Linked DNA regions of Homo sapiens: region 2 is linked to region 1. The links come from fine-mapping of genetic effects on gene expression. A gene starts in region 1. The other region holds a variant in brackets. All regions are shown on one strand. Distances are between the middles of the regions.

The links. PIP is the estimated chance that this variant, and not a neighbour inherited with it, causes the effect. A credible set is the group of variants that fine-mapping cannot tell apart.
Region 2: its variant is the best candidate, but not a certain one, in a credible set for the expression of SMARCA2 in fibroblasts (GTEx, PIP 0.77).

What each region holds. Positions count from the first base shown.
Region 1 is chr9:2,012,708-2,018,079 of GRCh38, forward strand. It overlaps SMARCA2 (SWI/SNF related BAF chromatin remodeling complex subunit ATPase 2), which reads left to right and starts at 2,640. Exons shown (of 34, transcript NM_003070.5): 1 at 2,640-2,697. RefSeq lists enhancers at 2,140-2,189, 2,250-2,299, 3,086-3,642 and silencers at 2,350-2,689, 3,830-3,999, 4,300-4,409, 4,560-4,749.
Region 2 is chr9:2,106,933-2,112,304 of GRCh38, forward strand. It overlaps SMARCA2 (SWI/SNF related BAF chromatin remodeling complex subunit ATPase 2), which reads left to right. Exons shown (of 34, transcript NM_003070.5): 24 at 3,322-3,485. Among named protein-coding and RNA genes, the nearest start is that of SMARCA2, 94 kb to the left of the region's middle. The variant C/G (reference allele first, on the strand shown) is at 2,590.

The sequences.
Region 1 (5,372 bases):
TTGTACCAAGTGAATGACGCTGCCTTTTCATTTCTCCTGTGTTGAGGCCTTATTTTATAAAATTCGTAACTGCTAGGGTACAAACTACAAACAAGACGAATTTTTAGAGGAACAACTTGAAGGGTGATGGGGGAAGGTGGTGCTTTCTTAGACCAATGCGAAGGGAGAGGGAGATGCAATATCTATATTTAATCTCTGTTCCCAACGATGTATTTTAATTCCCATAGCTGTGTGTATACAATGCGTGGATACCAACGCCTCCAAGGACAACATCAAAATTTTATATGAGCTGAAGAATATACACATATAACAAAGGGAATGTTTTCTTCTTTACTTTCCCTGTGACAAAATGCCAGAAGGAATGGACAGTTTCTTTCTCCAGGGACTTACTAATTGATTTGTTTTTGTTTTTGTTTTTTTGAGGATTTGCATGGCAAGTGGAAGTAGAATCTTAAGGGGATAAAGGGCATTTATTCACAAGGGAATAAAAGTGAAGTTATCAATTTCTGAAAATTGGCATGTGAGGCCGGCATGCCAGAGAAACAAATTAGACCCCAAAAAAATTAAAACCTAATACTCTCAATGTAATAAGCATTGCTATTAGGTTAAATCTCTTTATTAGAGACAGGTAGGTTATCTGGCTATATTATTAGTTGCGACTTATTAGGCAGTTAGAAGTTAGTATTTATGTTACACTTTTACTATACTACTAGTCTTGTTTAAAATTTCTCCCTATATATTTCTCAGTTAATAGTTATACCGGCATATCCTCAGGCAGAAAAACAAGTTCTTACAATGGATCCTTCAGGGCACACTATATTCTATTTCTCTTAGCTGTGTTATCTTTCGTTGTCTTGAGGTTCACTTCAAGATAGACAGAAAATGATGAAGCTAAAGTTAACAAGCAAGTAGCAAGACCTTAGAAAGCTATAGGGTGGGTGATCACCAACACTCCCAGCCATCATGAAAATGCTGCCCTAGTGGGCTCTGCTTCAGCCAGCAGTGGACCAGTGATATAAAGAATTCTTGCTTCTTAATGACTACATGGCAGTATTTGGCGTTCTTTCCATTACTTCTTGTCTTCAACTTATCCAGCCTGAAGTTTTAAGCATCCTAGAACTGCATTTCAGACCCAGTTGCTCAAATGGAGTCAATTTTGCAACAGTAAAATGGTCTTAAAATAGGATTTTACTCTAGGGGGAAGAATCCTCAACCAGATAGTCACAGTGCACTTTGAATGACTAATTTAAGCCATTACATTACGAAATAAGGGATAAATCATACTTTTCATAACACTACTGCATAGGAACAGTTTTAAGAGTCAAGCATCTACATTAATCTGAGTCTAAAATAATAGGCCCCTGATTTAAAGTCTCCTAACATTCTTTCACACTTCATAAAACTAAAAATAAAATTGTCTCACCAAACACCGACCTATTGGTCCGGCCAAAGTACTGTATTTCAAGGAAAATTGGAGCAAAGAGGTCTCAAAACCGCGACTTGCCAGCAAATTACAATTTGCAGCCTTAATTGGTCTCAAATGCGGGGTGAGAGGGAAGAGACTACGGTCTGTAGAAAATAAGAGATTTATTCCCCTTTTTAAATCAAAACCAGATTCCATGCTTCAGCCGCCCCCTAACCCGCCAGCCCCGCCCCCAGGGTTTGTTTTTCCATATTTTTGTATATATTTTAGCGAAGATGGCAGGTGAGGGAAGGTTATAGTGCTGTACCTAGTCCACGAAGTAAACAGAGAGGTTAGGGTGGGTTTACTTATTTATAAGGCGTTCAGCCTCTCAGCTGTTTCTCCCTCGTTGGCATTTGGAAGCTTGCAGTCCTTCAGGGAAGAGACAGATTTGGCAGGAACGTTCTTTGTGCCCGCCTCCCTTTTCTATTTTTTATTTTTTTACCTGGAATAGGGGGCAGATTTATAATGACAGCCTTAGGGAAGGGGGAGAAAAAGTTTCAGCCGGCACGACAATGCCCGTTTTTTCCACAGTCCACACTGTGCCACAAACAGCTTTGGTGCCACTCGGAGCCCGTCCCCCGTCCCCTCCCTCTCTCTCTGCAGGCTCGCACTGGCAGGCGGAGGCACAGTTAAATTCCAGCACCTTCTCCACATACCCCCGAACTACTACGCGCTATTACTACGGCTGCCCTCCGTTTTCGCTTCGCCTCCTCCCCTTCCGCAGTCTCCCTGGAGGAGCCCCGCGGCGCCCGAGGAAGAGGACTGCCAGGGAAGGGACAGCGGGCGCCCAGCTCCAGCAGGGCTTGGGGCTTTCTGCATCCCGCGCAGTTTCTCTGCTCCAGGCACAAACGCGGCCCGAGAGCCGGCGCCTTGCAGTCACACACGGATCCACGCATACAGTAGAGCTGTCTAGATCCACATTCTTGCACACCGCCCCCTCCTCCCCCCGCGCTCCCGGAGTCGCTGAGCTGAGCGAGTGACAGGCGCGTCCCGCCAACCCGCGCCCGGACGGGCAGGGAGGAGCGGCGCGCGGGGCCAACTGCGGCGCGTCTTCCGGCGCCCGCGGAGGAGGCGAGGGTGGGACGCTGGGCGGAGCCCGAGTTTAGGAAGAGGAGGGGACGGCTGTCATCAATGAAGTCATATTCATAATCTAGTCCTCTCTCCCTCTGTTTCTGTACTCTGGGTGACTCAGAGAGGGAAGAGATTCAGCCAGCACACTCCTCGCGAGCAAGGTAAATATAACTTACAACTCTTTTCTCCTCTTTCCCCTCCCTTCGGCCGCCCCGCTGCAGCCGCCGCTCAGACCCCTCCGGCACCACGCCGCCTTCGCCCGGGATTATCCATTATTATCCTAATTATTATTTATTGTGCATGCAAGGAGACCAAAACAAACAGGCGGGCCAACCGCCGCGACAAAAAAAAGCCCGCCTCCTCCCCGCGGGCCTCAGGTGGAATGCTCTAACGACAGCTCCCAGGCGGCGGTGGAAGAAACGAGAAAGTTTCAACCGAACCTTGCTGTTCTAATAATAACAGTAATAATTACTACTTCAAGGGGGCAAAGGAGGAAAAAAATCCCAACAAGCCACAGCCTTGATCCTGAGTGGGCAGTCAGAGGCGCTGCCAACTCAAGGTTGCAACACACACATTGGGCCAGGTTGCAATCCCCCCATCCCCTTAAAAGTGAGGCGGCGGGGAGGGGGGTGGCCGCAGGAGGGGGAAGGCCTGGGGGACAGGGGAGGAGGATGGAAACGCTACTGTTCATCCCGGGCAACCCTCCCCGGAAGAGTTGGAAGGGGAACGGGAAAGGAGGGCGGGGAGCCCAGGCTGGCGGCGGGGCGCCAACGGACGCTGTTGCCACCCGCTTCCCAGGGACTTGTTCAAAGGGCTCCGGCTGCGGAGACGTGAGCGGATCGCAGCGGGAGAAGCCTGAGCTGACGCGCGAAGGAGGTAGCGGCCACTGCCGCGGGGCCGGTGCGTGCCTGATCGGAGGTGTCACCTCCACTTTCCGCGTTTCCTCCGGCGTGGATGGGGAGGCTGATTGGTAGGCAGGCCTTTAGGCAAAGGGGCTGCCAGGGGGCTGCGCCCCGGGCGCTGCGGACGTCCCTGCCTCTGGTACCTGGCGGCAGCGCAGGCTCGGGTGTTAAAGTTCGGGATGTCCGGCCCGGGCCGCACTGCTGGAGGGAAGGGAGGAGGCCCCCAAGGAGGTCGGAGGTGCCCGCCAGCCTCCGTTACCCTGCCCTCCCTCTCCCCGGGTCCGTGTTCTTTTGCTTCGCGTCTTCCCCTTGCTTGCGCCGCGGGAGCTGCGGGCGTGGGGCGCCTGCGATCGTCCGGGTGCTAGGGGCGCGCCGGGACCCAGGAGAGCCACGGCGGCGGCTGCGGGCCCGGGAGGCCATGATCCGGATAATCCTGTCTGCCTGACTGTCACAAACAGGACCCGCGCACCACCGGGCAGCGGCGGTGTGGTTCGCCCGGGAAGGGGAAGGGCTGCGGTGGGGAGGGAATAGGGGGGTGGCGAGGGCGGGAGGCGGGGAGACCGGGTAGGAGCCTCCTCCCAACGATGACACGCACTCCTTCCTTCTCGCTCCCTGCTCAGGAGTTTGCTTTATTCCCATCCCAACCTGGTTTACCCCTTCCTTTGCTCTCCCCCTCCACCCGGCCGTCTTCCCTTCCTCCCGTTTGCGTTGCAAAACACGGCCATGCCATCTGCAAAGGTGTCGCGATGCACTTCCCTAAATAACCGGTCCGGCGCGCCAGCCCCTCGGCGCCCTCCGGCCGCAGGGCGCACACGGAGCACAGTGCTCCCGGTGCCCCGCACCAGGCCTCGCAGCCTGGGTGCAGTTACACGGCGGAGGGCGGGGCGCGGCAGTGCGGGCTCCGGCGGACACCCGCGCCTTGGCCGGGGCACTTGGGCCGGTTTCCGGTACACGCGGGGAAATCGCCTCCTGCCAGTGTCTGATCGCTCGCCTCCGCCTCCGCCTCTGCCGCCTGGATTGCATTATTATTTTTATCCGGGTTGCCGTTTGCTGCGGATGGTGGTGAGCGCGGGGCTGGCTGGGCTGCTTGGGGGGTGGGGTGGAGGGAAGTTGGACGTGGATCAGGCAGGAAAAAAAAAGTTTGGCAGGGCGGCTAAGTAGGGTGGAGGGGTGGGAGGGGGCTGCGAGCTCCCGCGGCTCCAGCCTCCGCGCCCTCCCGGCCGGCGCGAGTGTGTCTGCGCGTGAGTGTGAGTGTGAGTGTGTGTTGTGCGCGCAGGAGCCAGTGCGTCGGGAGCAGCGGCTCGGGCAGCTGCTCCTGCCCGCACCCTCCCCTGGAGCCCGGGGAGGACAAGGCGAGGTTTGGTGGCGAGGGCTGGTGGGGGTGGCGTGTGCGTGTGGTTGTGAGTGTGTGTGTGTGCGCGCGCGAGCGGCGGAGAATCAGGAAGTCACAGCAGCGAAGCGCACACAGCACACAGACATGTTTGATTGCCGTGACATGACGCGCGCGAGGGAGGAAGCGGCAGCGGCGGGGGCCGGGCCGCGGGCTGTGGCGCGGGCCTAGAGCCGCGGCTCGGAGACCGGTTCCCGTCCGCCGGCCGCGCCGCCACCCCAAGCTCCGCGAACCCCGCGCCCCTTTTTGTTCCGCGTCCTCCAGGTAAGGAGCCTGCGCAGCCCTGCCGCCGGCTGTGTGCGGAGCTTTCCAGTTCTTTCCCTGCCAGCCCCCTCCGGTCTCCCGGCTCGCCTTTCCTGCAAAGTCAGGCAGGCGGGGGAAATGGGCTCCTTGTCCTCCGATCGATTGCGTGGAAAACTTTCCAGCGGGAGGCACCATGAGGGGGAAGAAGGCCTTGCTGGCCGCTGTTGCTTGTCAGTTCTTTCTCCTCCGGGTCCGGAGAGTGTGAGTCGCTGCGCCCGGGGCTGTTGCACATTCAAACTTC
Region 2 (5,372 bases), 94 kb after region 1:
CCTATTAATTGTATGCTTATAATTGGTTATGTATCAAAGTCTGAAAGACCATGAAACTGATGTTAGTATTGAGCACGTTAAATCTTGAGCCACTTGCAAGGAGTGTCTGCCTTTGGATAGACTGTTACATGGTAGTTTGAATCTCCCTGAACAATATTAAAAATTTTGTTAAATTTAACAAAAAAAATTTGTTAAATTAAAAAAATATTTGTTAAAAAGATTGCTGATGATCAGCAAAGATCTTGACTTGGAAATCTTTGACAGAAAGGGTTTTCTAGCAAATTGCAAACCTTATGATAAGAAATGCCATAGCTTTGTATGAAAAATGACTTAATCTTTTTTGTTTTTTATAATTTGTCAAGTTCCCAGCTATTTATACAGTTTATTTAATTTAATTTTATTTTATTTTATTGAGACGGAGTCTCGCTCTGTCCCCCAGGCTGGAGTGCATCTCGGCTCCCTGCAACCTCCGCCTCCTGGGTTCAAGCAATTCTTGTGCCCCACCCTCCCAAGTAGCTGGGATTACAGATGTGTGCCACCATGCCCAGCTAACTTTTATATTTTTAGTAGAGATGGGGTTTTACCATGTTGGCCAGGGTGATCTCGAACCCCTGACCTCAGGTGATCCGCCCACCTTGGCCTCCCAAAGTGCTGGGATTACAGGTGTGAGCCACCATGCCTGGCCTATACAGTTTAAATACACACCAGATATATGGTTGGCCTGTTTGCTTGAGGTATCTGTTATAGGGTCTGAAAACTCCTTTGACCAAATAATTTTATTTGGATATTCCTTTTGTTTTTCAGTGCTTTATTTTGCATGTAAGGTTATTTCATCTCAGTAGGCATTGGTTGTATTTATATCTTATGTTACTGGCCAGATCCACGTCTGTTCTGCCCACGTGCAGTAAATCAATCACTGTGACACAGGTTTTGCAAAAGAGAAAAGATTTATTCACAAGGGCACCAAGCATAAAGATGGAAGAACAGCCCTCAACTCTACCTCCCTGAAGATAAGGTTTAGGGATATTTATGGGGTAAGGAAGTGGGGTGGTGTAAGGCACAGGGAAAGGTGATTGGCAGTGGGGAAAAATGAAATCACAGGTTCGTTCTACACAGGCATAGCCAGGGTTCATGGCATTTCCTAGGACATACATACAAAAAATGGCAGAGTCAGCATGATCTGATGGTGGAGTTTTTGGCTCTCCAACATCAAAAGGCCATCTCTTGGGCACTTGCGCTCAGGCCCAGTTTAAGGGCCAGTGGTGTCAACGGGTTTGAACTGGACAGAGCTGGCCAAAGTTCCTGAAAAACAACTGAAGTAACCATTACCATGGTGACGTATGCATGTTATCTGTAAAGTAGCCAGTGAAGGTCAAGTTTGAGCATTCAGCAGCAAGACCTTCAGCTACTGCAGCCTTCAGCTTCATGGAAAAAGAGAAAACAAAAATAACAAAAAGCAAGAAACCAGAAGCATGCAGGGCAGGCAGACCTGATGAGATTAACTGTTCGGTTTCATTAATCCGTGTGATTATCAGCTGGTTCATTTTCAGTTAATCAAAACTGTTGAACTTCTATCCTGAGAGTATAGATGTATAGTTTTGTACCCAGTTTTCAGAAACACAGATGCCATGATCTCTTCTTTCCCCATTTTAGAAGAAATTTTTGGTTTCTGTGGCTTTTCATTCAGTTTAAGGCAGAGGAGAAATATGTGAACCATTAATACATGTAATTTTTAAAAAAATTCTTGTAGCTGGAAAGATGATAGAGAAGGTTTCACAGCAGAAATATCTTCCATTAGCGTCGTGAACAGATAGTTCACCATGATCTCAGAAAGCCAATTCTGAAAATAAAAGAAAAAAGAGCCCCACATTTGAAAGCTCACTCATCAAAGCATGTTTAGTGCTCCTCCTCCAAAATCTAAACTCGGACAGTTGATTGTGTCGGACCTCACCAGTTCACTAAACTCGAAACCTAATGTAGAAAGTAAATTGGGTCTAAAGAATGTGACTCCATGTGACTCAATGAGAGCCCCCAGACCCCTCATTTCTAATCCCTGTTTGCTGTATGCAGGGAAGTGATTTGTTTTCTCCCTCTTCAGGAGGGCATTTGTTATTTTTATTAAATGTGAAAAACAGATCGTCCCCATGTTTGAGAACTTGGCCCTCATAGTAACTTGATTTCATTAGCTATAGTCACTTAAATGTTTTAATCCTCTGAAATAAATTGCTGGTATGTTTTCATCCTTAAAAAATGAACAGCATGTAGGAATAATATTTGAAGAGCAGCTGGTCAGAGACTGTCATGTAACATGCATACATATTTCCCAACAGCCTAAAGCCTTCTTTCAAAATTCAGCATCTAAGCTTTTCTGGTGAAATATGTTCAGATGGAATACTGGTGTTTTTTTTTTCTCCCCTTCCACAATGCATTTCATGAAATGGCTGGGTAAATACATTACACATACATAATATGTGATTGAGTGGCTCATCTGGAATGCAAGAATGCCCCAAAAGTGAGCACCAGACTCTGAGGTTTGGTACTGTCTGCTTATTCACTATTTTGGAGCCTCTTCAGACCCCATGGGGCAAA[C/G]CACCCCCAAGTATTTAACATGCTGCTCTGTTTAGTTGGTTTTGATTTAGCATGCTTTGAACTCAACAGAGCAGGATGATAACGTGAGAAACAGACTAAGAGATTTCTTGTGGGGGGGGTGGGGATTATTGTGGCTTTAAGTCTTGCTAACAAGGATAAAATTATTCCATTTGCAAAAAAAAAATTACATTCATAATTTATGTTTTTACCAACCAGACCATACTTAGTAGTAATCCAAATGGTAAAGTAGTAGAAAAGAACTTTCCTTTTTTTTCTATTTTCTTGGCATAAAAAAAGTCCTTGCTTTAATGCCTATTGGCAAAGTTTATTTAAGCCATTATTACAGTTTTAAGTGCACGTGTGTGTGTGTGAGAGTGAAAGAGACAGGGCGAGAGAGGAAGTGTGTGTGTTCTTAAAATTATTTGTTGTTATAAATCACAGAAATAAATCCAAAAAATGTTTTCATTGTTTTAGGTGAGAGTAAGGATTTTGTAAAATTTGTGAAGTTGCGAAGATGCCTCATTAGAAATGTTTAAGCTGTTTCTTTCTTTTTTTTTGTAATTGCAAAATGTTCAAAGTTTTTTATCCAGAAGTACAAAGCCCTGGAAATTACCTCACCAGTGTTAGGAGGAGTCTGGGTATATTTCTTGAAGGAAGCAAGCCTTTTTGTCTCATTCTGTGCCATTTTCAGACAAGAGTTAATTGGCAAATTAATTTTTCTGATCCCCTCAGGCACCACCAAGTCTGAAGATCGTGCTGCTTTGCTGAAGAAATTCAATGAACCTGGATCCCAGTATTTCATTTTCTTGCTGAGCACAAGAGCTGGTGGCCTGGGCTTAAATCTTCAGGCAGCTGATACAGTGGTCATCTTTGACAGCGACTGGAATCCTCATCAGGTCTGCATGTCCCACTCAGGTGCCCAGGCCTCCCTCTGGAGAGCAACTAAAAGATGATCAGTTTCATTATTCACATTTACAGGACAGAGCAAATATCTAAACGAGTGGGCTGTTGCTTTCTTGGAGCCAATTCTTCTGGCTGTTTTCTTATCTCCCTTAGAGCATAGATACGAGGTCCCACATATGCCTTTGAAGAGCTGAAGTTTGAGGTAGAAAAACTTAGTTTCTCCTTAGTTTTAATCCCATCTCTTGGGATTGCCATTGAACAAAGTATATTTAATGAGGGATAAGTCAAAAATGTTGCAAAATCATAGCAGTAAGAACAATAGCAACCATCATTCATGGGACCCTTAATCTGTGTCAGCCTCTTGGGCATTTTTTCATTCAGTTTTACGACAACCCTGTCAGACGGTTAATATGATTTGAATCTTTGCAGTCAAGGAAACTGAATCCTAGGCAGGGTAAGTAACTTCCCCAAGGCCAAATAGTATTACAGTAGTTAACCTTTTATTTTGTGTTTTATTTAAAGTCATCATCAAAACATATTCTAATGAGCATTTATTGTTGTAAAGCTCTTTTAGCCAGGTAAGTTCAGGGCTATCCTTTTAAAGCAGTACTTTGATGTTTTGTTTTTTTTTTTTTAAATTGAGCGGGTCTCTCATGGCACTGGTTTTCTAAGTTACTCTGGGAGGTGAGGCATCTGCCTGTAGGATATTGGGTAGGGTGATATTGGTCAAGATTTGATTCATACTGGAGCAAATGTTGAATTCAAAACAGTAAAAATGAAGAGCAGGTGTGGTGGCTCATGCCTGTAATCCCAGGACTTTGGGAGGTTGAGGCAGGAGGATTGCTTTGAGCCCAGGAATTTGAGACCAGCCTGGGCAACATGGTGAAACCCTGTCTCTACAAAAAAATACAAAAATTAGCTGGGCACAGTGGCACTTATACCTGTAGTCCCAAGTTCCTCAGCAGGCTGAGGTGGGAGGATTGTTTGAGTCTGGGAGGCAGAGGCTATAGTGAGCCATGATCGTACCACCGCTCTCCAGCCCGGGCGACAAAGCAAGACCGTGTCTCAAAAAAAAAAAAAAAAAAAGAAAAGCAAAAAGAAAATGGCAACTCTCACGTAGGAGTATGAATTCTACATCAGCTTTTCCTAGGCTCCTCGTTGAGCCCTGGTTTTCTCAACAGTAACACTATCTCACTGGGTTGCGAAGACTGAGTGGCAGTGCCATATAGCGTCACTTTTGGCAGGAAATCACATTCAGGGGTACATTAAAATTCTAAGGGAGCTTTTAAAAAATATGCATGCCTGCTTTCTGTTCCCTGCCACCGCACCCCAGTTTTCTTATTCGGTGGAGCTAGGTGCTTCCTTTGAGCGCTCCCAGGAGATTCTGAAATAGATTCTCATACAGATGAGGAGCACTGATTTAAAGACTCAACTGTGGGCCCAAACCACCAACACTGGGCCACTGCGTGTACTTACCATTCTCTGTAGGTGAATAAATTAAAGCGACTATTAAAATTTTCTGATCTTGAAAAGGATTGGGAGCCACCAGCACAGAATATATTAGTTCTAAGTCTTCAGGAAATATGGTTACGTATTTTTATAAATACATAAAAGTGTTTCATTCCAAGGCTCAGGTAGAATTCATATTGATGTGAGAGATCTGCAGTTTTTCTTTTTAGCATTATGGATTCAGTATTTGTTCCACAAACATTTATTGAGTGTCTGTTATGCAGCAGGCAGTGAGCTAGGCTGGGTATCTAAGGGGGAGGAAGGAAGACGTGATGTGACTCCTCTCCTCCTGGTGTGCTCAATGTGATTGGATGTTTAGATTATCCTTGCTGGTACCTAAGTTTTGAGGACGATCTATAGGTGAATGGAGA